3 linked regions of the Homo sapiens genome follow. The protein of the gene in region 2 interacts with the protein of the main gene of each other region in a pairwise test. Each region holds a gene or a part of one and is shown on either strand. Other genes may lie near its edges. The genes, in order: SH2B1, NTRK2 and NMNAT1.

Region 1 (3,652 bases), on a different chromosome or scaffold from region 2:
CTCTCCTCTCCTCGGCGTCGCAGTCCCTGTCTCTCCCACCTTCCCCTGCTCTCTTCCTCCTGAGCTCCCAACGTGATTCCTGCTTGTGCTGCTCAGGGGACACTAAGCTTTCTATAGGGAGTGATGTCAACCCAGCTGAAAGCCTCTAGAGAACAAGGAGCTCATCTCAGGCATCCTAGCTACCCCATCCTGGCCCGGGACACAGAGCAGGGCCAGGTATGCACTAGGGCCATCCTCCAAGTCTGTCCAACAGCAGGCCACTGCCTACACAAATGTCATAGGCAGGCAGTGCTCAGAAGACAGGCGTGTGGTGCACAGACAGCATGGCTTGGGAAACAGGGTGGCGCAGCCCCTGTCTTCCTCAGTGACCCTCAGGTGTCCTCTCCCTGGTCTTAGCTACTAAGATCTGATGAGATGCAAGGTCCACTCTAGATCTAAGATTCCATGATTCATGTGTTCATTCACTGAATACAGCCTGTGTGCTAGGCACTGTGCAGCTGGAACTCAGAACAGAGGGTCAGGAGAAAAGGCTATAGTGGAGGCCGAATCTAGAAATATGAGTTGGGACTGGGTGACACATCTTTGTGTGTTTGTGTGTGTGGGTCGGGTATGTGTGTTTGGTCAGACCAAAAAGTACAGAGTCAAGAGAAAACGTGATTGCCCCTGACAGACACAGAGATGCAGAGTAAGAACAAAACAAAGATTTCTACAAAGTGTTCCAGAAGCTTGGAGAAAACCACCATTATTTCCAGCCAGAGCGGTGGCTGGCAGGACGCTGACTGAAAAAGTGGCGAGGCTGGGTGCAGAAGCCTGGCTAAGGTTTGCTTGGGGCCTGCGTGGGGTCATGATTATTCTAAACAGCAAACTGTGGCTGTGTTCAGGGATCAAAGACCAACATTTGGTGGGGTTGGGGTAGGGCATCTGGAAAACAGGGATGGGGGCACAGTGGCGTCTGGAGAGGGCATGGCGCCTGACAGCAGGGGCCCCGCATGGCAGGTTCCGAGGCTCCGAGCTCTCTAAGGCTCCACCCTTACCCTGCGACAGGCGGTCATTGCTCTCGCTGGGTCCAAGCAGCAGGTCCTGGCTGGGTAGACTCTCCGAGTGATTCAGGCAGGACAGCTCCAGGCTGTCTGTGTTCTCCCTTGTAAGGAATGAGGTCCCAGGGGCCAGAGGGAGGGTCATGGGGCGGGGACTGGTAGCAGGGCAGGGTCTGCAGAGACAGGGAAGATGGTGCTGGGAGGAAAGTCACCAGGTGAGAGGCGCAAGGCTGCTCCCCAACCCCACTCTATGTCCCTTAGCGACAGAAGTCAGGCTTCTCACCCTGGGCTCAGGCATTCTTGGATGTCAGACACCCAGGCCTTCACATGCTGGGCATCCACTGTCTCCATGATATACTCGGATGGACCTTCCACCTACAGAGATGAGACGACGCCTCAGCTGGGGCAGGGGCAGGGAGGAGGCTTAATCCATGCCTAATGAGAACAATGTATGCAGGCTGTCTACAAACAAGATGCATTCGAATTCTCTCTGGAGGCCGGGTACAGAGGCTCACACCTGTAATCCCAGCACCTCTGGAGGATCACTTGAGCCCAGGAGTTGGACCAGTCTGGGCAACATAGTGAGAACCTGTCTCTAAAAAAATTGAAAAATAAAATAAGGCGAGGCCGGGTACGATGGCTCACACCTGTAATCCCAGCACTTTGAGAGGCCAAGGAGGGTGGATCACAAGGTCAAGAGTTCGAGACCAACATGACCAATGTGGTGAAACCCTGTCTCTACTAAAAACAAAAATTAGCCAGGCGTGGTGGCAGGCGCCTGTAGTCCCAGCTACTCGAGAGGCTGAGACAGGAGAATCGCTTGAACCCGGGAGGCGGAGGTTGCAGTGAGCCAAGATCATGCCACTTCAACTCCAGCCTGGGAGACAGAGTAAAATGCCGTCTCAAAAATATAAAAAATAAAAATAAAATAAAATAAAATAGGCCAGGCGCAGTGGCTCACGCCTATAATCCCAGCACTTTGGGAGGCTGAGGCGGGCAAATCACGAGGTCAGGAGATCGAGACCATCCTAGCTAACTTGGTGAAACCCCGTCTCTACTAAAAATACAAAAAAATTATCCGGGCGTGGTGGCGGACGCCAGTAGTCCCAGCTACTCGGGAGGCTGAGGCAGGAAAATGGCATGAACCCGGGAGGTGGAGCTTGCAGTGAGTCGAGATCGCGCCACTGCACTCCAGCCTGGGCGACAGAGCGAGACTCTGTCTCAAAAAAAATAAATAAATAATAAAATAAAATAAGGCCAGGCACAGTGGCTCACGCCTGTGATCCCAACACTTTGGGAGGCCAAGTGGGGTGGATCACTTGAGGCCAGTTTGAGACCAGCCTGCCGAACATGGCAAAACCCATTTCTGCTAAACATACAAAAAATTAGCTGGGCATAGTGGTGCATGCCTGTAATCCCAACTACTCAGGAGGCTGAGGCACAAGAATCGCTTGAACCTGGGAGGCAGAGGTTGCAGTGAGCCAAGATCGCGCCGCTGCACTCCAGCCTGTGCGGCAGAGCAAGGCTCTATCTCAAATGTAAGTAAGTAACAAAATTAGCCAGGCATGGTGTCACATGCCTGTAGTCCCAGCTCCTTAGAGGGCTGAGGCAGGACGATCACTTGAGCCCAGGAGTTCGAGGCTACACGAGGCTACAGTGAGCTATGATCAGGTTGCTGCACTCCTGACTTAGAGGGAGACCCTGTCTCTCTAAAACAACCACAACAACAAAAACTCCACAGTTCTCTTTCAAGTGGAGGCATTGTTTTTGAGAGTAAGAACATTTCCCTGTCTTCCGCTATCCCAGAAAAGCTGCAGCCCCAGGGACACACTCTCAAGGCACTGGACACATATATATACCTCCTTTCGGCGACGCCACTTGCTTAAATGCGCTGAGGGCTTTCTCCTTAACACAAGCACTGCCGGCGGCTGGGAAGTTGAATTCCTACCTTAACCACAAACGTGTTCTCCCGGTCAGGCATCTCCAGGGCTGTGGTTGTCCGGACGTCTGTGATAGAAGAGCAGGGGATGCTGAGTCGGGGCCGAGAGGCCTAAGTCAGGAGAAAGAAACAGATCTGGGTGTTTGGTTTCCAAAGACCACTCTTCCCCTCCCTCCAGACATTCATCTTTCCTTCTACATCCTCGGGAAGTTAGACAAAAGGCAGTCACACTGCTTTCTCAGTCCTGCCCGCAGCTGCTAACACAGAGCCAAGAGCCAGCTTTACCAACAAAAAGTGAGCGACACCAGGGCCATGGGCTGGTAAACCCCAGAGCTTATCTGCAGGGCTGTGACCACTCTGAGCACTCTCTCACTTGCTCTCAGTCACCCACCCTCCAAGGGGCCTCACCTTGGGTGGTACAAAGAACTCCAGGCGACTTCCTCCTCCTCCTTCTCCTTCACTTCGAAGCAGCAGGCGACACTTCTGCCACTGAGGCTGCCCTCCTCCCCCTGAAGGAGGCCCAGCCACCCCTCCTCCCCGGCCCACTCCGGCTGGGTCAGGGGCTGCCTCCTCAGCCCCCATGAAACTCAGCAGCTCTTCCCTCTGCACCATCCCTGCTCCATCCTTCAAGGCGCCCCCTCCCCGACTGAGTCTCAGCCTCTCAAAACGGTGAGTC
Region 2 (3,652 bases):
CTTCACAGCTGATGTATACACTTCCTTATCTCCGTGACCGAGGCTTCAGGGAACTTCAGAGCCTTGAGAAACTTGTCTGAGCATCAAATCCAAAGCCCTCAGTTTACATGTGACAAGCTGAGGCCCAGAAACATTAAAAGGCTGCTTCAAGATCAGGTAACTGGGTAGTGACTGGGTAGTGGTGACATTGGGATGAAGTTCCAGGTCTCCTGACTTCAGCTTTCCATGATATGCTTTTTTATTTTTATTTTTTGAAACACATAAGGAATAAACTTAGTATCTACACATTGCTTTTCTTTGCAAGATTTTTGTAACTTTGAGCACATTCACTCATCCATCTCCCAGATCAATATTTATAACTTCCCAGTCCTTTGGACACCCCAGAGAGCAAAGTAAGTGGTGAGAAGGCACCCAGTTATATGGGACCTTTACTTTTCTAATGGAGATTGATCAGCAATCAAATGTGAGCTAAAATTATCAGGCCACAGTGGAGCTCAGATCTTTGCCATTTGAGGCTTGAGGTGGGATTTGTTTTAAAATAGCTCAACCAAGTAGACTATAAAAATGATTGATCAACCATAAATAATCCAAGATTCAGGGTTTTTTTTCTTCCCTCTATCTTTCTCTCTCTCTCTCACAAACACACATCAAACAAGTAAAAACTTTGCCATGCTTCAATAGTCTCTCCCCCAAATCCTCCTATTGATTACAGGCATCAGAAGCAACTAAAAATTGGCATTGTTCCAAGGGGCAGGTCTTTCATGTCACATCCTACGCTATAGCTTTTGAACCTACAAGAAACTCTCTAGAGAAGTGGTAAAGTTAGCCAGAGGGATAAGGCCAGTTTATGGTATTCAATAATGGTTTGATAATGTTTTTTTCCCTAGCAGGCAAGATGACCAATGAGTTAAAACTGGATGCACTTGCTTAACACTCAAGGCAAAAAAAAAAAAAAAAAAAAAAAAAAAGGAAAGAAAGAAAGAAAGGAGAAGAGAAAAGAAATTCAATTCCCCTTCCCCAGCTAAACAAAAACACTAGTTTTTATACTCCTATGACCTAGATATAGTCAAAGAGATCATACAGAATATTACTAGGGAGAAAGAGACCTCAACTCTCAGCTGTTCAGCCAACTCTTCAGCTTAGAAAACACCTTTATAAGGGAATATTGAAGCAGACACAAACAGAGGTTTATGGGATAGAAACAGTGAGAGACCTTAAACAGACCTAAACTCCACACTAGGGAACTGGGACCACATTGCTTCAACTTCCCAATACTTGCTTGTAATAACATACAGCCCAGGCTCTTCTCTTAACTCCAGCATTCTGAATTCCCATAAGGAAATATCACTTTTCAGAGAAGAAAAAAATCAAACCCATTTTCCTGTATAAATAATGGGTGATGGAAGGGGAGGTGGAAGAAAGTAGGGTCAAAAGGGTCACAAGGCTTTTCCACTGTTTTACCCAGGGTAACAAAAGTGTCCATATTGCAGAGATTGAAGGTATGAAACTAAAAAGACTCCACACAGTTGTGCCAAGCTGATGTCTGTAAATACCTACACTATGAAGACAGCATGTTCTCAACTCCAGCTTGCAAGTTGTATTAAATAATGAATGATGTAAATTAGACTGCCTTATTCATTAACAAGTCTAGTGTGGCTTATGTAACCGTGCTCCAAATTTAAATACATGGCTCTTAAATGCATATAAGACACAGTCCAAAGTTCTAAAACCCCCAATGGAGGGGCTGAGAAGTAAACATCAGAGTAATAAAAATTGATGCCTTTCACTGAATCTTTGTGAATGCCAGGATTTTTTTTTAAGTACAATTAATTGCAATGGCAAAGCTTATTAAAGTAAGAGGGCCAAAATCAATGTATTAATGACACAACATTACAGCTGCTTAACCAGGCCAACAATAAATTGCACATAGAGTCTGTCATAGGAGAAGCTCCAAATTCTATTTAGGTTGTGCTAAGAGGAAAAATATAAGGCTGTTCTCAAATATTACCCCCAAATCAGAGAATACCACTGGAGAAATTCAAAAAAAAGATCCCTATTAGTCTTCATAAAGCACGTGCAACATAAAAATGCATGCCCTTCCACAGCAACATGGATACACAGAACACTACTGAACTGTAAGATGGTACATTTTAGGTTATGTATTTTTTTTTTACCACAGCTAAAAAAATGCACGACTTCTTTTGACTGTGCCTTTTACCACTTGGGTGAAACAGAACTTGTCCTTTGCAATGCACTTTGGCACTTAATACAACTGGGATTTAAACGGCCAGTTACATAATTCCAACAACAGGCTTCACTCTTGAATTCCATTGCATGTGACATTGGTACTGCGTTTAAATTCATTTTAACACTGCTGTGGTATAACCATTTCCAAATAACAGGAGCTGCCACTTAGCAGTGTGATGTTGAGCAGGCGTGATACATACCTATAGATAGATATTGATCTAGTTATGTCACATTAGTGGGCAAAAAATATAAAACAGGTACTGTGATGGGAAGATTTTTAATAAAATAGGTTCAATGACTCTGAAGACAAAATGTCAGCTTAGCTGAAAGCATGCATGTAAAAACAAAACAAAACAAAAAGATCCTACCTCTTGGTTAATCTACACATTTTTTTTAATGTCCCACTATTTGTGTTCTTAGAACCCTAAGGGCATGATGGTTTAATATATAGATGCTAAAAGATACACCATTTTTGAATGATATGGTAAACCGTTGTTTCAGCAAGTTGTGTGTTGCTAATCACAGTTTATTCACCACATTATTTCTATTTTTAAAAAATAGACGCACGTAACTTCAGCTACATACCACTAAACCAGAACTTTACAACAGGTTATTTTAGGAATACCACTGGGCCTAACAACAAAGTTTTAAAATATGTATAATTTGGTTCCAACTGTAGCTGGTATCCACTGGACAAGAATTTAAAAGCTGTGCAAGCAAATATTAATATGTAAGAAAAAGAACATAGATGGTGTCATATAAGGATGCGAGTGAAACAAGCGCATCCACTGATGTCATTTTTAGGTCAAAAAAGCAGAATTCAAAATAATTATATGGAGTACTTTCCAAAGAAGTATTGTCATACGAGTTACAGACAAAGGCACTGGGGCACAAACTGGCTGGGCTCACACAAAGCTGAGATAGAGCAGAGAAACATACTTTGTCTCAGGACTCACATCTACCCAGCCAGACTAATATTACTAACCTAATTCCCTGTTCTCAACACTTAGCCCTATATACCTCTCCAATCCCACAACCCCAAGAGGTTTTCAAATCAAAAGGGAAAAAAGTTAGAGTAGAAATTAGAAGTGCCACGATTGAATGAATAACTATGACACATGCTTTTGTAAATATTTTTAAAATCTACTTTAAAAAAGCTGAAAATAGGAACCTGCCATCAGATATAAAAGAAGCAACAACAATTGTGAGGACAGATATAAGAAAGCTCTGCTGAAATCAATTGATTTCATATACATCAGGCAGCTAAGATCAGGAAGGTCTGAAATAATAATTTTTTAGATTTAAAGATAGTTTTATTTCCTTTTTCTCAGATCATGGCCTTAAAATTATCAAACAGAAAAACAAAGTGAAAATGATCAGCCCTATCTTCTTTCTTTCTTCATTA
Region 3 (3,652 bases), on a different chromosome or scaffold from region 2:
AGACACATAAGCAAACCCAAGTGAGATCAACCAAACCTGGCTCAGATCGTCAAGCCAACAAGCTGACCCTAGTCTCAAAAACAAAAAATTAGTGTTCATTATCATATGTCACTCAAGTTTTGTGATTGCACTATTGTGGCCACAGTTAATTAATACAACAATATTATCATCTACCAAATACAGCATTTTTGCCTTTTAGTCAACATGATAGTAACATCATAACTTTCCACTAAATAATAGAATATAATTTACAAACCTCTTTTTCATATCAGTTATTCCACTGATCCTTCCATAACCCTAATGAAGTAACATAAGGCATCCAATTTTAGGTTTTTATTAAAATTTCTTTTTTTTTTTTTTGAGACGGGAGTCTCACTCTGTTGCCCAGGCTGGAGTGCATTGGCGCGATCTCAGCTCACTGCAAGCTCCGCCTCCCAGGTTCACACCATTCTTCTGCCTCAGCCTCCCGAGTAGCTGGGATTACAGGTGCCTGCCACCACACCTGCCTAATTTTTTGTATTTTTAGTAGAGACGGGGTTTCATCATGTTAGATGGTCTTCATCTCCTGACCTTGTGATCCGCCTGCCTCAGCTTCCCAAAGTGCTGGGATTACAGGCGTGAGCCACTGCGCCTGGCCTAAAATTTCTTATTCAACTAATTCATATATATAGATCTAGAACATCACAGGGTAAAAAAGGCCCTTAATGAAAACCAACAGCCATCAATCATATTCCACTCATCATCCCTTCCATCCAACCACTTTTAACTTTTTCAGCTATTTCTTCTGGTAGTTTCTACCATAACTCTACATTATGTGCTTATAATGCCATTTCTTAATTTATCCAACTATAACAGTGCCCATTGACTTTATGATCTATAAAGATTAGCCCTCATACCCTTTGACTACCTTCTCCCAAACTGCCCAATATAGTTTATCTCCAGACTATGTTGAAAATCATCTTCTCTCACAACTTCAAAGGCATTACTTCTAGATTCCAATGTTAATAGCATGAAATCCAAAGCCACTTCTAATTCCGGAGCTTTTGAATGTCATTTTTTTCCTGTCTTGAAGCATGTAAGGTCTTCTCTTTGTCCGCAGTGTTCTGAAATTTCACAGTGCTGTCCTCTAGTGCAGCTTTGTTTCTATCCATCATGCTGAGCACAGGGCAAGCAGGTCCTTTCAGTCTGGAAACTTGTAACATTCAGTTCTAGAAAATGTCCTTGAGTTCTTTCATTGATGATTTTCTGCCTCCCATTTTATCTGTTCTTTTGAAATGTCTATTATTTATTTATTTTTTTGAGACAGAGTCTCCCTCTCTCACCCAGGCTGGAGTGCAGTGGCACGATCTCAGCTCACTGCAACCTCCACCTCCCAGGTTCAAGCAATTCTCCTGCCTCAGCCTCCCAAGTAGCTGGGACTACAGGCATGCACCACCACACCCAGATAACTTTTGAATTTTTAGTAGAGATGGGTTTCACCATGTTAGCTAGGCTGGTCTCGAACTCCTGGCCTCAAGTGATCCACCCACCTCAGCCGCCCATGAACCACTGTGCCTGGCCTGAAAATGTCTATTATTTAGAGCTGAAGCATCTAATCATTTTTTCTGTATTTTCCACCTCCTGCCTTCATGCTCTAATTTCCTGATAGCCTCAACTTCATCCTCCAATCTGCCTAGTTTTCACTTCTGCCATTACACTCTTAATTTCCAAGAGCCCTATCCTCTGAATACTCCTGTTTATGGTATTCTACTCATTTCCCCAACAGATTATCATCTCTATTTCTCTACCAATATTCATGATATATTTTAAAGTTTCTTCAAAAAGAGCTGATGGGACAGGCTGAGTGGGTAGGTAGGGCTTGTGCACAGGGGCCATAACTGTTCAGTAACCTGTCAGTACCGCAGGTCTTTTTGCTTGGATTAGTCAGACTCTACAAGAAAGTATCCTACAATTTCCCGCCTATATAACAGAAGAGTTAAGAGCCTATGCTCTGATATTAGGCTGCCTGGCTTCAAATTGCAGCTCCAACGGCATGACCTTGGGCAACCTAACCCTAACTTAACCTTCCTTTTGTGCCAGGTTTTTTCTTTGGCTTTTTTTTTTTTTTTTTGAGACAGAGTCTCGCTCTGTCACCCAGGCTGGGGTGCAGTGGTACGATCTCAGCTCACTGCAACCTCTGCCTTCCAGGTTCAAGCAATCCTCCCTGCTTCAGCCTCCCAAGTAGCTGGGATTACAGGCACGTGCCACCACACCTGGCTAATTTTTTTTTTTTTTTTTTTGAGACAGAGTCTCGCCCTGTCGCCCAGGCTGGAGTGCAGTGGCATGATCTCGACTCACTGCAAGCTCCGCCTACTGGGTTCATGCCATTCTCCTGCCTCAGCCTCCCGAGTAGCTGGGACTATAGGTGCCCGCCACCACTCCTGGCTAATTATTTTTTGTATTTTTAGTACAGACGGGGTTTCACCATGTTAGCCAGGATGGTCTTGATCTCCTGACCTTAAGTGATCCACCTGCCTCGGCCTCCCAGAGTATTGGCATTACAGGCATGAGCCACAGTGCCCACCTTGTCCCAGTTTTTAATCAATCTTAAAAAGGAGAAAATAATACTACCTACCTCCTGATTGTTGTGAGGATTAAATGAAACAATACAGATCCAAGACATAGAACTACATTTGGCAGGCCAGGCGCGGCGGCTCACGCCTGTAATCCCAGCACTTTGGGAGGCCAAGATGGGCAGATCACGAGGTCAGGAGATCGAGACCACCCTGGCTAACATGGTGAAACCCCATCTCTACTAAAAACACAAAAAAATTAGCCAGGCGTGGTGGCGGGCACCTGTAGTCCCAGCTACTCGGGAGGCTGAGGCAGGAGAACGGCGTGAACCCAGGAGGCGGAGCTTGCAGCAAGCCAAGATCGTGCCACTGCACTCCAGCCTGGGCAACAGAGCGAGACTCCATCTCAAAAAAAAACAAAAAAAAAAACTACATTTGGCAAATAGCAAACATGCTATGAATATAGCTATTATGAATGTTGCAAATTATGTTACTAGAATTGTCTTTTGTTTTTTGATTTTTGAGACAGTATCTCACTCTGTTGTCCAGGCTGGAGTACAGTGGTACAATCTCAGCTCACTGCAACCTCCATCTCCCAGGCTCAAGTGATCCTTCGACCTCAGCCTCCCAAGCAGCTGGGACTACAGGCATGCACTGGCTAATTGTTTTTTTGTATTTTTTGTAGAGATGGGGTTTTGCCATATTGCCCAGGCTGGTCTCAAACTCCTGGGCTCAGAATCTCGAAGCGAACCTGTCCACTTTGGCCAATTCCAAAGTGCTGGGCTTACAGGTATGAGCCACTGTGCTCAGCAAGCAATTTTTTTTTTAATCAACAAAACATCAATTTCAAATGGTTTAATTTACAATTGCTATTCTATTCAATCTGTTTTTTTCCCAGAGGATTTTCTTTCTGGAACTCTCCTCCTCTTATCCAGATGAAAAATCTCTATTTGTGAAGCTATTATTCTGAAAACTTCTTCATCTCTTTCCTGGGTTAGATCCCCTATTTATTTCTCGCTTTGCTTTCTAATCTTTCTGGAGCGTATCCTCAAGCGTTTCATGATAAAGGGTTGATCTCTCATACACCCTTTATCATGAAA

The links.
Region 1: the proteins of NTRK2 (region 2) and SH2B1 interact in a two-hybrid assay, tested with the Homo sapiens proteins (one study listed by BioGRID).
Region 3: the proteins of NTRK2 (region 2) and NMNAT1 interact in a two-hybrid assay, tested with the Homo sapiens proteins (one large-scale study listed by BioGRID and IntAct).

The regions. Positions count from the first base shown.
Region 1 is NC_000016.10:28,866,766-28,870,417, reverse strand, and holds part of SH2B1 (SH2B adapter protein 1), read right to left. Parts: coding exon 3,385-3,652; intron 3,088-3,384; coding exon 2,986-3,087; intron 1,413-2,985; coding exon 1,321-1,412; intron 1,211-1,320; coding exon 1,035-1,210; intron 1-1,034. UniProt on the Homo sapiens protein: Adapter protein for several members of the tyrosine kinase receptor family.
Region 2 is NC_000009.12:84,672,641-84,676,292, reverse strand, and holds part of NTRK2 (BDNF/NT-3 growth factors receptor isoform a precursor), read right to left. Parts: intron 1-3,652. UniProt on the Homo sapiens protein: Receptor tyrosine kinase involved in the development and the maturation of the central and the peripheral nervous systems through regulation of neuron survival, proliferation, migration, differentiation, and synapse formation and plasticity.
Region 3 is NC_000001.11:9,967,398-9,971,049, reverse strand, and holds part of NMNAT1 (nicotinamide/nicotinic acid mononucleotide adenylyltransferase 1), read right to left. Parts: exon of another isoform or gene 3,592-3,652; intron 1-3,591.